Linked DNA regions of Homo sapiens. The protein of the gene in region 2 interacts with the protein of the main gene of each other region in a pairwise test. Each region holds a gene or a part of one and is shown on either strand. Other genes may lie near its edges.

Evidence for each region.
Region 1: the proteins of ACIN1 (region 2) and PNN interact in binary tests that used the Homo sapiens proteins (3 or more experiments, as listed by UniProt).

Annotation. Positions count from the first base shown.
Region 1 is NC_000014.9:39,170,450-39,178,348, forward strand, and holds the start of PNN (pinin), read left to right. Parts: upstream 1-4,804; 5' UTR 4,805-4,830; coding exon 4,831-4,943; intron 4,944-5,329; exon of another isoform or gene 5,330-5,431; intron 5,432-5,628; coding exon 5,629-5,700; intron 5,701-6,077; coding exon 6,078-6,146; intron 6,147-6,962; coding exon 6,963-7,035; intron 7,036-7,143; coding exon 7,144-7,238; intron 7,239-7,391; coding exon 7,392-7,467; intron 7,468-7,899. UniProt on the Homo sapiens protein: Transcriptional activator binding to the E-box 1 core sequence of the E-cadherin promoter gene; the core-binding sequence is 5'CAGGTG-3'. Capable of reversing CTBP1-mediated transcription repression.
Region 2 is NC_000014.9:23,063,937-23,071,204, forward strand, and holds part of ACIN1 (apoptotic chromatin condensation inducer in the nucleus), read right to left. Parts: exon of another isoform or gene 7,212-7,268; coding exon of another isoform or gene 7,189-7,211; intron 5,682-7,188; coding exon 5,540-5,681; coding exon of another isoform or gene 5,444-5,539; exon of another isoform or gene 4,766-5,443; coding exon of another isoform or gene 4,676-4,765; exon of another isoform or gene 4,529-4,675; coding exon of another isoform or gene 4,325-4,528; exon of another isoform or gene 3,424-4,324; intron 2,073-3,423; coding exon 2,030-2,072; intron 553-2,029; coding exon 419-552; intron 322-418; coding exon 169-321; intron 1-168.

The DNA.
Region 1 (7,899 bases), about 16 Mb from region 2:
GAGTTCCTCTCTCCCAAGCCCGGAGAGGCCAGCGCCCAGATATGAGGAAGGTTCCCCTCTCACCACGATGTCGGGGGCAGAGCAAGATAAAATAAGACCTAAAGCTCCCGCCTGGCCCGGGCGCGGTGGCTCACGCCTGTAATCCCAGCACTTTGGGTGGCGGAGGCGGGTGGATCACATGAGGTCGGAAGTTCGAACCAGCCTGAGAAACCCCGTCTCTACTATAAGTACAAAATTAGCGGGGCCTGGTGGTGCATGCCTGTAATCCCAGCTACTCGGGAGTCTGAGGCAGGAGAATCGCTTGAACTCGGGAGGCGGAGGTTGCGGTGAGCTGAGATCGCGCCACTGCACTCCAGCCTGGGCAACAAGAGTGAAACTCCGTCTCAAAAAAAAAAAAAAAAAAAGAGCTCCCGCGGCCACCTCCTTGTTAATTAGCAATAGAAGTTAAAAAAATTCTTTTGGCTTCATCAAAAGCATCCACTTCCTGCCATATGTTCTTCAAATATGAAAAGTTGTAGAAAGAGTTTAAAATATACGTTTTCACAGTGCAAATTTTTTAAATATTGAAAAGTTATCCCAATTCCTATTGAATTAAGCCCGGGTATACAAAAAGAATTAGAGCCATTTTGACCACCAGGAATTTTCCTGTTAGTGGGGTGCAAGGGACAAGGGAAGTGGAGCAAACGAAAAACAAGATACACTTGAACCGGAAAATACAGACTAATCAGAGGATTAGGTGAAAAGTGCTATAGAATTCAGAAAAGCGATGTCACTGCAGGATGGAGTTGCTAATAATCTACAGCAGTGTGAGACAACTGTAGGAATTGTCCCACTGCATGTGCAAATAAATACACATGCTACATCATAGTATGTACATCTTAAATTTGGCAAATTCAACCGTAAGCATGTTGCTTAGCCTGTGATTAGTTCTTCCATTGGTAATTCACAAAACAAAATTTTTCCCCAATTGTCCCTGTTGTTTTCCCCCAAATTAACATACCGCAAGGTGGCTCATGCCTGTAAAATCCAGCACTTTGGGAGGCCGAGGCACGGGGGGTGGGGGGGATCACGAGGTCATGAGTTTTGAGAGCAGCCTGGCCAACATGGTGAAAACCCGTCTCCACTAAAAATACAAAAATTAGCCGGGCGTGGTGACAGGTGCCTGTAATCCCAGCTACTCGGGGGGCTGAGGCAGGAGAATCACTTGAACCTGGGAGGCAGAGGTTGCAGCGAGCAGAAATTGTGCCACTGCACTCCAGCCTGGGCGACAGAGCAAGACTTCGTCTCAAAAAACGAAACACACACACAAACTCTTCATGCCCTTTCACAGGAATTTAAGATCATGTTCCAAAATTTTAATTGTGGTAGGTTTTTTTTTTAAGCATGTCCCTTCTAATGTTTGAATCAGTTTATTCCATTCATCACGTAAATCCAGCATAAAAGCTCCACTTAAGCCTTTGAAAACACTAAATTGTGTAATTTTGAAGAGTATTTTGCCATGGTAATCTTAATTTTTCCAGCACTAAATTTTCAGTTATGCGAAATCAGGTCCTTTATGTCTAGATGACATTCTTGCCCTCATCACTACCATCAAGAAAAAGGAGTCCAAGTCCACCACACAAGTCAAAAAGTAAGTAAATGGCCAATTTATCAAAGTTGACTTCTCCAACCACAATAACATGAGGCTTTTAAAGTACGTTTCTGGATAGAAAGGAAACTTATTTAATGAGGACCTACTAACTATTGAACACAGCATCCTACTTATCCTTCTCCATAAAGTTAAATTGCCAAGGCTCCTAGGAATAGATCCTATGGAAGCAAGGACAGTGAGTGTGGTGTGTGTGTGTGTGTGTTTTGAGACAGAGTTTTGCTCTTGTTGCCCAGGCTGGAGTGCAATGGCACTATCTCAGCTCACTGCAACCCCGCCTCCCGGGTTCAAGTGATTCTCCTGCCTCAGCTTCCCGAGTAGGTGGGATTACAGGCATGCACCACCAAGCCCAGCTCATTTTGTATTTTTAGTAGAGACGGGGTTTCTCCATGTTGGTCAGGCTGATCTCGAACTCGTGACCTCAGGTGATCCGCCTGCCTCGGCCTCCCAAAGTGCTGGGATTACAGACTTGAGCCACTGTGCCCAGCTGTGTGTGTTTTGTTTTGTTTGAGACAGAGTCTCACTGTTGCCCAGGCCAGAGTGCAGTGGCATGATCTTGGCTCACTGCATGCAACCTCCACCTCCCGGGCTCAAGCAATTCTGCCTCAGCCTTCCAAGCAGCTGACACTACAGGCACTTGCCACCATGCAGGACTAATTTTGTATTTTTAGTAGAGACAGGGTTTCATCATGTTGGCCAGGCTGGTCTTGAACTCCCAATCTCAAGTGATCCGCCCACCAAGGCCTCCCAAAATCCTGGGATTACCGGGCCGACCATACATGCAAACATTCTTACACTTGCTGAATACGCTCTACTATTATCACACTCTCATGCCTCAGGTACTGCCTAAGGTTGTACACAGACCTGTAATAAGATCAATGAGGCTAAGTATGCTCACAATCAGAATTAGATAATTGTCAATCTTCATCCCCATTATTCATCTCTACATTTTTTTCTCCTATAGTACTTCCCGCTTTCTAACATGCTATACTATTTATTTATTTATTTATTTATTTTTGAGACAGAGTCTCACTGCTGCCCAGGCTAGAGTGCAGTGGTGTGATGACAGCTCACTGCAGTCTCAAACTCCTGGACTCAAACAATCATCCCGCCTCAGCCTCTCCAGTACAATTTTTAAAATTTTTATTTTTAGAGACAGGATCGTTGCTATGTTGCCCAGGCTGGTCTTAACTCCTGGGCTGTAGCGATTCTCCCACCTCAGTCTCCCAAGTATCTGGGATTACAGGCACAATCCACTGGACTTGCTCAGAGATCTTTATTGTACACTGATATACCCAAGTGCCTAGAATAGCACCTGGCACATAGTGGGCCCTCAGTATTTGTTGAACTAATGAATGATCATTGCTCCTTTGGAAGCCTACAAACCCCACAGAAGCAGGAATCACAACTATCTTGTTCTAGGCTTTATTTTCAAACCCTAGCTTACTGCTGATACACAATGGAAGCTCTAAAAGATTGCTGGATTAAAGTGGTAGCTTGAGTTAATTAATACACTGGGCCCACTAATTCTTTGTACAAGGAAGATAGATGCCTGGCTGAGATTATTTAAAGCATTGTTTCTGTGGGAAAGTGTTTTGTTTTTTTGTTTGTTTGGGACGGAGTCTCACTCTGTCGCACAGGCTAGAGTGCAGTGGTGCAATCTCGGCTCACTGCAACCTCCGCATCCCGGGCTCCCGAGTAGCTGGGATTACAGGCGTACACCACCACTCCCAGCTAATTTTTGTATTTTTAGTAAAGGCGGGGTTTCCCCATGTTGGCCAGGCTGGTCTCCAACTCCTGGCCTCAAGTGATCCACCTGCCTCAGCCTCCCTAAGTGCTGGGATTACGGGCGTGAGCCACTGTGCCTGGCCTGTGAAAAAATGTTTTCTGAGCTTCAATTTGTATATATATTTATAGAACAAAACTAGTTCCTACATTGGCAGTGCAGGTAGGGCAGAACCAGAAGCGGGACAACACACACAGACACCACTAACAACAGGGCCGCTCCCTTAGGTCTGGTCTTAACCAGCTCTAGGCCAGGTGAAGAGGCTAACTCAACCATGACTGCGTGTCTGTCTCGCCATTGCTTTCTTTTCTCTAGTATAGATGCTCAGCGTCTAATCAGAGACTGATTCTCAACTGGCGTGACCAAAGGACAGTTATATTATCTCCAGTCTCAATTTCCTTATCAGTAATAACAGGCATTTTATCCACACTTTCAGTTTGTGAGAAATAAGGCATGTAGACGGTTTCACAGAGGGTCGGGAACAAGATCAACCCCTAACAAACGTTAGCCATTATGACTAATGACTTTTACTAGTTTTCATTTTTGTCTTCCCTCTTCTCACTTTAACCTAATCAGGCTGGGCGTGGTGGCTCACGCCTGTAATCCCAGCACCCTGGGAGGTCGAGGCAGGCGAATCACCTGAGGTCAGGAGTTCGAGACCAGCCTGCCCAACATGGTGGAATCCGGTCTCTAATAATACAAAAATTAGCCAGGCGTGTTGGCGCGCGCCTGTAGTCCCAGGTACTCAGGAGGCTGAGGCAGGAGAATCGCTTGAACCCGGGAGGAGGAGGTTGCAGTGAGCCGAGATGGTGCCACTGCACTCCAGCCTGGACGACAGAGCGAGACTCCGTGTGAAAAAAAAAAAATTAACCTAATAGAGGAAAGCACGCGCCCACCCCCTCTCTGAGCATGCGCACCAACAGAATAGCCGCGCCCTTTCCTAATTAAATCATTAACCAAGGTGAGGGTAAGGAAGAAAAGGAGGCTTGGCTAAGTCCCACTCTGATGTGATCACGTTAAAACGGTGTAAGGCACATTACATCATAGGTTAAAAGGCCTAGAAAACTCCGCGCTCCCCTTGCCAGAACTGCAGACTCGCGAGCCTAAGTCTCCGAGAACTCAGGGATTGTGAAACCCGCCCCGACTCTGCGCTAGCAGCGGGATCCAGGCACCCGCAGCTAACTGGGGAGGGAGATGACTGCCTGGCTGACTTTTCATTGGCTCAGAGTCACAAAGGCTGCAGGTTCTTCCCCCTTCCGGTCGCTGAGTGGTTGAGGCCGGAAGACAACGCTCATCGTCATTGGCTGAGCCCGGCTGTCAGTCCTTTCGCGCCTCGGCGGCGCGGCATAGCCCGGCTCGGCCTGTAAAGCAGTCTCAAGCCTGCCGCAGGGAGAAGATGGCGGTCGCCGTGAGAACTTTGCAGGAACAGCTGGAAAAGGCCAAAGAGAGTCTTAAGAACGTGGATGAGAACATTCGCAAGCTCACCGGGCGGGATCCGAATGACGTGAGGTAAGGGCCTAACGGGAACTCGGAACTCGGAGCTCGGAGAGGCAGCCCTCAGGTCGGGGTGAATTGGGGGCGGGGAGGGCGGCCAGCCTTAAGAAGACTGGAACCTCGAGGCCTGTTCGCGGGGCGGCGGGTAAAACCCTGTTGTCGCCGAGGTGGAGAGGCCCCAGGTCCCCTCCGTAGAGCGCTGGTCTCAGGTCCCTGAGGAAGGAGAGCGAGGCCTGGGTGCGCCGGCATGCTTTCTTGGCCTGTGAGAAGACCCGGACTGCTGATTCCCGCTCTCGGCCCTGCAGGCCCGGAACTGCAGCACAAAGCCCCTTCCCGCTCCGGCGGACACCCGGCCCGTTGCTGGCCCCGAGACCCTGCCGGGACGCAACAAGCCGCCTTACCCCAGCTTCCTGTCCACGTGCAGCCTCCTCGGGGATGGCGGGATGGGGACCTGATCCAGGCTTGTTAATGTGTGGGGGCATCGAGGTGAATATAATTTCTGTGACACAGGTCCTGGAGAAACGAGGAAGTTAAATGAAATAGTACTTCCTGTCCTGTTTCAGACATTTAGATTTATTTGAAACTATCTTTTTGGAACTTTTGTGATTTTTTCTCCTTATGATCCACATCTCTGAAAGTATTTGGGTGCGACTGTGTGTGTCTACATATGATTTTGCACTGATTTGTAAATCTTTTACAGGCCCATCCAAGCCAGATTGCTGGCCCTTTCTGGTCCTGGTGGAGGTAGAGGACGTGGTAGTTTATTACTGAGGTAAGATTTCCTTTGGACTTTACTCATGCTGAAACTACTGGTACTTTACTAAATATGTTGGTTTGAACAAAACCTGTGATAAAATCAATAACCCAGTGTTTGTCGTCTTTGTTTTGTTTAATGTTGTAATAGACTAGATTTCTGTATAAATATAGTTATCCTGAAAAACTGGAGGTTGAAGAATATATTAAGTTTACCAATTTTGAGTGAACTTAATTCTTATAAAGTAACACTATAAAAGCATTTTGGAATGAATGCCCGTTTAAGGCTACTTTAGTTGGAAAGATTTTTGAAAGTTTAACCATATTCTCTTGTCAAATGGAAATACCATTTATCTTGTATTTCAAGTGTTTTATGTTGAACATTTTAAATTTCAGGCGTGGATTCTCAGATAGTGGAGGAGGACCCCCAGCCAAACAGAGAGACCTTGAAGGGGCAGTCAGTAGGTAGGTTTAAAAAAAGATTCCTGAAGGCTTCTTTAGTTTCTGAGGTACCACACAAATATAAATGTTTATTAACAATAATTCTGTTTCAGCAATATTAAAATTGAGTGGTATGCCACTCCCTGCCCCCCCCAAGTTCTGTTGGTATTTGACTGAACAGTTGACTATCAGTTCCCTCAAAACGCAGTTCTGCACTCATGATAACCTAAATTTTATCCAAATAAAGGTCATGTGAAGAGTAAAATTGGAAAAATTGTCAATTAGTACCATTTTTTCTGACTTGTACTTGAAAAACTTAACCAGTTTGAAATACTTAGAAAATACAGGAGAGCAAAATTGGTTTGGGCGTTAGTTCACACATTGTAGTATCCTTTCTCTGCTGGAGGAAAGAATAAAATGGGATGGAGACTTGATAGAACAAAGCTTCTGGAAACGAGTCCTAGAAGAGAGGGCATTTGCCCTTGGTGTGCAGTTACATAAATACCTCAGTGGTCATTTAAATTAATTTTTGGCCAGGCACAGTGGCTCATCCCTGTAATCCCAGCACTTTGGGAAGCCAAGACCAGCAGATCACTTGAGCCCAGGAGTTGGAGAACAGCCTAGATACATGGTGAAATCCCATCCCTACAAAAAGTACAAAAAAGTTACCCAGGCATGCTGGCTCACGCCTGTAGTCCCAGCTGCTTGGGAGGATGAGGCAGGAGGATCACTTGAGCCTGGGAGGTCGAGGCTGCAGTGAACCGTGGTGGCACCACTGCACTTCAGCCTGGGTGGTATAGTGAAACCCTGTCTCAAAAAAATTAATATTTTCTATGACAGGCTGGGCGGGGAGCGTCGGACCAGAAGAGAATCACGCCAGGAAAGCGACCCGGAGGATGATGATGTTAAAAAGGTATTGAGATTGAAAGAACTTAAATGAATGTAGTACCTTCACTTTACTACATTTAAAAGCACACCACTCATATGCTAGTTAAATTACTGAGATTTTCTTTTTCTGCAGCCAGCATTGCAGTCTTCAGTTGTAGCTACCTCCAAAGAGCGCACACGTAGAGACCTTATCCAGGATCAAAATATGGATGAAAAGGGAAAGCAAAGGTATTTCCCTGGGGGAAAAAAACTCTAGTGAAATAATGCAGTTATAAGGAAAATCAAGGGATTGTTCAAGCATCCTGTAGTATTTCTTAGAAAATGATGGGTTTAAATGAAATGGATCCTGTTGACAGTAAATTTTCTTATTCTGTTCTTTAGGAACCGGCGAATATTTGGCTTGTTGATGGGTACCCTTCAAAAATTTAAACAAGAATCCACTGTTGCTACTGAAAGGGTATTTATCCAAGTTTTGTTTTGCATCATATATTTAAGTTATCAAAGTAGTAGATTAATGTTTTTTTTAAAAAATCCTTAAAGCTCTTTTAAGACCTAACTGTAAACCTGAAACAAAGCCAAGTAAAAACTTGGTTTAACTTCTTATAGAACAGCTTTACTTAAACATTGTGTTGGAATATAACAGTTGTTGATATCATAGCTAATAGCCTTGAAATTTAGATATGTGAAAAAAAAAAGCCTCAAGTCTCCATTTCCTTAAAGACAAATTACAGTCAGTACCAAGTGCTAAGTTCTAGTTAGTTGGTATCCTGAATTGAAAATGTGAAGCGGCCAGGTGCAGTGGCTCATGCCTGTAATCCCAGCACTTTGGGAGGCTGAGGCAGGTGGATCACCTGAGGTCAGAAGTTTTTCGAGACCAGCCTGGCCAACA
Region 2 (7,268 bases):
CAGGTAGCCAGCTGGATTTGGTAGTCTGACCCCTGAAAGTGTCAGTCAACCCAACCCTCTGCACAGACAGGGAAGTTCCCTCCAAAGACTTTATCTCAGCTCCTCAGCTAGCTGCTCTGCATCTACTGCTCCCACCTTTCCCCTGACACTGGGGTGCAGAAGCCTTACCTGAGTGACTGTCCGGCATATTTTCAGCCCCTTGTCATGGGTCCCATCATCGCCATTACGCTCTGTCTCATCCTCAGAGATGCGAGAGTCATCAGCATGAAGATCCACAACAGCCTCCTGCCCCGCCAGGGGTTTGATGTCGGGGATGAGGCTCTGGGACACAGATACCCCCCACCCCGTTACACTGGGCCCATGTCTACTCCCACCTTAACAGGTCTCATCCTCCCTTCCCTGGCTCCTCCCACCTCACCTTTAGTGATTCAGTGGTGATACTGATGGAAGGTTTCTTCTGTGTGGTGGCTGTGCTGGCTCCCCAGCGTCGTTTCCGACCAGGCTGGCCCCCCTCTGTGTCACTGTTTCCAGCTGGCACCCCCTTGGTAGCTGCTGTCCCCAAGAAATAGACCCAACAGTTAGATGGTCTCAGGACCTCTGCTAGTTCAAACCGTAATACCTACAGGTTACCTCTGGCTGGAGTTTTGGTAAAAGGTTAACTTAAAGAAATCATATTTGGAGGCTGAGTGTGGTGGCTCACACCTGTAATCCCAGCACTTTGGGAGGCCAAGGCGGGTGGATCACGAGGTCAGGAGTTTGAGACTAGCCTGACCAACATGGTGAAACCCCATCTCTACTAAAAATACAAAAATTAGCCAGGCGTTGTGGTGCATGCCTGTAATCCCAGCTACTCAGGGTGCTGAAGCAGAATTGCTTGAACCCGGGAGGCGGAGGCTGCAGTGAGCCAAGATGGTGCCACTGACTGCACTCCAGCCTGGTGACAGAGCAAGACTCCGTCTCAAAAAAAAAAAAAGAAAAGAAATCATATTTGGGAACTGGGGAAACCATGGCTTCAGACTGAACACTGATCTAAAAGCAGTAAGGGAGGGGTAGCTAGTTTGATGAGCCGTTTAAACTTTTAATGGTAGACAGTAATATCAAGTAGTGTGGAAGAAAAACTGAGAAGGACATGTAAATGCAGAAGAAACAAGAACACTATGTGATACTAACATCTAGGCAGAACTAAGATCATGATGGGATCTGGTCTTCCTTTAATTTTCACACTACAGATTGATATTTAAGTTATAAACATCTATTATACTTTTGTAATCTAGAGTTCCTCATTGGGGAAAATGTTAAAATTGTTACTGTTTGAGGTGTGGGGCACTTTCATTTCCTTGGGTGCTCTCTTAGAATAACGCATAAACAAGGTCAGGCACGATGGCTCACGCCTGTAATCCCAACACTTTGGGAGGCCAAGGCAGGCGGATCACAAGGTCAGGAGTTCAAGACCAGCCTGTCCAACATGGGGAAACCCCATCTCTACTAAAAATACAAAAATTAGCTGGGCATGGTGGCGCATGCCTCTAATCCCAGCTACTCAGGAGGCGGAGGAGGATTGCTTGAACTGGGACCCGGAGGCGGAGGTTGCAGTGAGCCAAAATCGCACCACTGCACTCCAGCCTAGGGTACTACAGAGGGAGACTCCGTCTCAAAAAAACAACAACAAAATACCCAGAATAATTCATAAACTGCTAAGCATCACATAGGAGTCCCTGAAACTCATTCCTTGTTGAGTATTCAGGTATCTGAAAGAATAAATGCCTCTAAGGCTAAATGGGACATGGTCTCAGACACCTCACACTGTATCTCATTAAAATGTGACTGGAGCAATATGATGGGGATTGTCTCAAGTTTTGAATTCCAAAATGAAACCCTACATAGGAAAGGATTCAGATTTGCTAGGCACAAGGGGTGGGGCAGGAGGGAGTGACCCAAGAATGCCATTGAGAATGAAATTCTGGTTCTCAATGAATGCTGGTTTTTATGGTATTCCTGACTTTTATCAGGGATTTGGGGCTGGACTTACAGACAACGGAGATCTTCCTCTTGAATGATTTGGGCAGCGAGCTCTGTATGAAGAAGAAAAAGGGGAAAAAAAAGAGAAAGAGAGACACCCCACAGAGAGGGGGGAAGGAGGTTAGATGGGGCAGTCTTAGCTTAGCCTCCAAAGACACAGATAGAGTGAGAGAGAGAGACAGAGAGAGACACAGAGACAGACAGAGACCAAAACAGAAGCGGCAAACGGCAAAAACGAAGCAGAATCAATGCAAGTTAGAGAAAAAAATAAAACTAAACATCAGAGCAGGGAAAAGTCATCTACTCCGTATCACACCTGTGTATTAGCTTAACCAGAAATAAGCTGGAAGAGGAGTTCAGTAGCCTCTCAGCCCCCTAAAGATGTTGGTCATACCCCCTCTTTCACCGTCTGAGTCGAGAGGACACCAAGCCAAACAAACTGTGCCCCAAACTGGGTCATCTAGTCCTCCCAGGTCCTTCCTTGCTAACTCGAGGAAACAAGGAAAACCAACTTTGGATGGCAACTTCAACAAGGTAACCCTCCTTTCTTCAATGGCCAGACTGATGCCCACTGACAATGGCTTTGAGATGCTTGGACAGCAGACTGTCATGTCAAGACTGCCCAGACCCCCACCACACTGTGGAAAAGGGCAGCACCAGACCCACTGGAGATGAGGCTCTTGAGCCAAGTGCTAGCAAAAAGAACTCAAAGGTGTCTTTGATAAAGGAAGGTTTTTATGAAGGGCAGATTGTCCCCAAGGAGATCCTTAGACTTTCCAGCCACCGCAGGGAGCTCCAGCAGAGTCTTACTGTTTCCTCTCCAACCAGGGCTCAAGCCTTAGGGGCTCTGCCAAAGACCAGAAGACATCTTTGGGACAAGTCTCTACCCCAAACACTCAGTGGGTGAATGACGAAAGACTATGGGGGGCGGGGGAGAAAAGTGAGAGAGAAAAAGGGAATAGAGTATTTTCAAGTGTAGGTGCTTATTTCTGGAAAAACTAAGACCACTCTACCACTCTTCTAAAGGGTAGGGCAGAAACCTCGTGATGAAATCCCTTTCCCATCCACCCCCACCCGCAGCCCCGTTTGTGTCGTCTAACCAAGTCTCCTTGGTCTCTGTTAAGGGCCAGCCTGACCCCTAGCTGGGCCGCTCTCGATGGGTAAGTTAGTGAGAAAAACAAAACAAAAAAAAAGGTCTTAATTAAAACAGGAAAAACATGAACCAAATAAATAAATAAAAGAAATCAGAAAAAATAAAGATATAGAAAAAAATAAAATAAAATATTAAAAAAAGAAGAAGAAAATAAAGAAGAAAATAAACTAGGAATATGACAAATGTTCCAGGTACCATCTCACACCTGGGATCTTCAGTTCAGCCAATCGCACCTCACTGTGTACTGTATCTAGTCAACCGCCGGTCCAATCAGAATGAGCCCTCCCTGCTAGGCGCTGTGCAATTGGTGGGGGGTTGGGTTGGCAAAAAAGGTGGGCGCACGGCGTGGTAGTCAGCACGGCACTGCCAGAGTCCTCCCAGGGGCGCAGGGGGGGCGGGAGGGAAACGTGTGGGGGGACGCTGCCCAGTTTCCATGATGTCAAGACAGTTCACTGGCGGTGGCCAGGCTCAGCGAGGGATAGAGGGGGGAAAGGGGCAGAGACATCAGTCCTGGCCCTGAAGGGACATCATCTTGCAGTCCCTGATGAGATGGCCTGTGAGTAGCAGGAATGATCCTTGCCTTTTATCGTGAGAGGCAGGCAGGACCCTATGTCCACCAGTGGCAAGCTGCAGCAATAACACCACCCAATACTTGGAATCCAGGTGATGACTCCAGAGTCCCTTTCTCCTCTGCCTGTAACTGGGGAGGGGGTCCTCTCACCGAGTGGGATCATGGAGCCTCTGATGAAGGTAGCCTGGGGGTAGGTGAATACCCCAGGACCTGGCAGACATTCAGCAGCAAGGTCAGAATACTTCTCTTCGGAGAGTTGTGGCTGGCATCTCCTCAGGGACTCCAGCTGAGACAGTGGTTCCAGTCAGGTGGATGAAATGAGTCCCTGCCTCCAGGGATGGAGGAGAAGTTGGAGCAACCAACATGCTGCCCTTCACCATGGACAACAGGGACCAAAGGAAAGTCCATCTGATGAGCAAGTGGTGACACATGGGCTGGGCTGTCATCAGCATTAAATCCCCAGGGGCTCAGACCCTAGACTCCTCTGCACGGTTCCTAGTCGTCACAGCTTAAGTAGAGGGTCCCACTCAGTGTTTTACAGCATGGCACTGCGATCACAAACTTTAGGAGGTCTTGGTGCCCTAGATGGGGATCCCAACAGTCTGTAGCAAACAAGGCAACCCACAGTCCTCAAAAGGGCAAGGGCATGTGGGCAGGCGCCCCAGCACTGGCACAAGCTCTTCTTGGGGTGTCCCAAGTAGGGAGATGATGCAAGTCCACCCCTTTCCAAATGTTTTTTGCTTGCTCAATACAAGTCTCTCCAGAACAGTGTTCTTCTTGGCCCCCTGATGTAAGCAAGACAGGGAGGCAAAAGGGGGCCCATCACAGGAGCCCATATACATGCCCCCCTCTGGCCAAGACACCTGGATAGCAGACTTGGCTCTGATTGGGCAGCTCAGTAGCAGCGGGTGGGTCCAGAGGAAGAGGCGGCATCAGCGATTGGCCAGTTGGGCAGGGTTATATTTTACGGGCGGATTACCGTACATGAGGTACTTGGACAAAGTTTTACGGGGAAGAAGGACCTTGTAATAAATAATATTCTGCACATCAAATCACTTTCACCGGCCCCCACCCCCGCAACACACACCAGAAAAAGGCTACACACACAACAGTCCCTCCCACCTTGTTACCCCTCTCCTAAACCCAGCTCATTCTTTCTCAATTACTTTAAGAGCCAAGAAGACTTCGCTGGCTCTGATGGGGGAAGCCCCCTGAAGTGGGTGCAGGACACAAGATAACATATGCCAAAAAAGGAGGTAGAGGGGTCACAGGTAACTGAGAATGGGCCTTCCGGATCACAAGTGCTGGCTTCTAAGTAGCTACATCTCTGCAGTCAGACCACTGGAGGGCAGAGGAGGAACAAAAATTTCTCAGCATGGCTGGTCTGGTGAGAACCACCAATGTCCACTAGATGGCGTTGGGCTCCATCAGGCTTTTAAAAAGGAGGGAAAGCTAAAGGAGTTACCACCAGGAGAAGCTTGGGAAGACAGCAGGAAAAGCTGAACATAAATCTTAGATAAAGGGCCATTATCAGACTTTCCCGTTAGTTACAAACGTCTAGAGTCTGGGCACTACTTCCCCAACAAGGAAAGGAAAATGAATGAGCCCTGTCCCCGTCACAAGGGGTCTCCCTTGCTAAACCAGCGAATTCTCCCTTGGCCCTATTCTGATCCAAGTCCCTGCCTCATCCCTCCTTTAAGTTAACCCACCGTGTAAGAGGGATCACTAGAGTGCTCTACTCTTTCCCCTAGGTCCATTCCTGCCCACCCGCCCCAATAGGTGGCTTGGATGTTTACCTCTTTCTTCTCCTCATCTTCAACACTGCCCTCCGGGCGGTCATCATTGCTGACTTGGTCTGCAATAGGCATGGGAGGTTCTGGAACATCATTTTCAGGTCTGTTTTCACTTGTGTCCATGGTCACTTCCTCCTTCTCCTCACTGACAGGAGGGGGGAGTGGTGGTGGGGGGGCGGGCAGAAAAGAACCAAGGGGAAGAGAGAGCAAGATGTTAGTTACTGGGTCAGGAAACCCTCCTGCCTCATCACTTGGGTGGGATTAGGAGGGCTGCTTTTCTGATCAAGGTTAGAGACCTTGTCCCAATGGGAAAAGTGGGAAATAGATTTTCCTTGGGGAAAGAGCGTGGATCACAGCAACCACATCCACCTATTGCCCAGATGAGTTAAAAGTTGTCATTTGTGGGGTTAGGACTCCAACTATTCTCAGGTAATAACTCACCAGAGTACTCCTATATGAAAGGAGAAAAACCCTCCTCTGAAAATAGTCCCACAAAAGTGACTGTGATTTGCCCACAACCCTGTGGCCTCAGTCTCCCTGGCCAAAGGCACCTTTATATGGCAAAATTGCACGAGAAACGAAGGGAAGCCCGATTCCCTTAAAAAGACAAGAAAGAATGGCCAAGGCTTTGGCAAAAAAGCCTGACCTGTGTTTAATCAACTGCTTAATAAGTAAAGGCCTGCTGATCCTCAGGATCTGGAGACACCAGCATGGAGAAAATGGTGGGGGGTGGGGGGTGCGGGGCGGGGGGTGGGAGCTGCAGGGAAGAAGCAGGCCTGGTGAAGGTTCAAGCTTCAAGGACCCTCTCTCATTCAAAAGGAAAAATTAAAACTGCTGAATTGAGTATGAGAGCTCAGAGATTAGGGCCACTTTTACCTGCTCAGAGGTGTAGAAACTGTTCCTACATTCGGCTTTCACCCAGTTTCTCCCACTCCCTCATTCCAACTTCCAAGAGATAAAGAGAGCAGGCCTCCTAGTCAGGACACACCCTCCCCCACACAGGCAGCTTCCCCCAAGAACACCAAACCCACTCTCCCACTCTTAATCTCACAAGTTAGCTCCCATTTCAGGCAAAGAATCCCAGAGATTCACTTCAGATAAACTATCTTTCCACCTTTGATTTCTGTCTTCGTCCCCAACTTCTATCTCAAATCTCACCCCCTCTACCACCCAAACACCAAGCAAAAAAAATCAAATCAAGATGATCAGAGGCCTAAGGCTCAGGAGAGGGGAAACCAAGCCTCCCAGGCCGATAACCACCACCAGAAAAGTCAGCATTCCCAACAGGCTGACTGACTGACACTCAGAGGTCAGAAGAACCTCCCTAGAGCAGTCAAGAAGGGATGCACTAGGGGGGTTAGGGGGAGGGGAAAATCGGAACTGTGCCCCCAGCTAAACAGGCCCCCAGAGAAACACGAGATTTAGCTGCTTACATCTAGAGAAAAGGCTTATACAAAAAAAATATCTATTTCCCATACAGAAAGGGCATGTGGGGCCAATTAGAAACTGGGCAGGCAGGACAAAGGGGGAAGGCAGAATGACTGAAAACAAACCAAAACGAAAGACGGAATGAAAGCCATGAGGAAGAGAAGGAAGACGAAGGGAGCTAGGGCGGCGGGGAAAAGGCATACATGGAAATGTGAAGCTCTCACCCTTCTTTGCTTTCTGATAACATGATTTTTTTTCTCCCCCTGGAAGTGCTGTTTATCCCTTTCTGGAATGGAAGAAATAA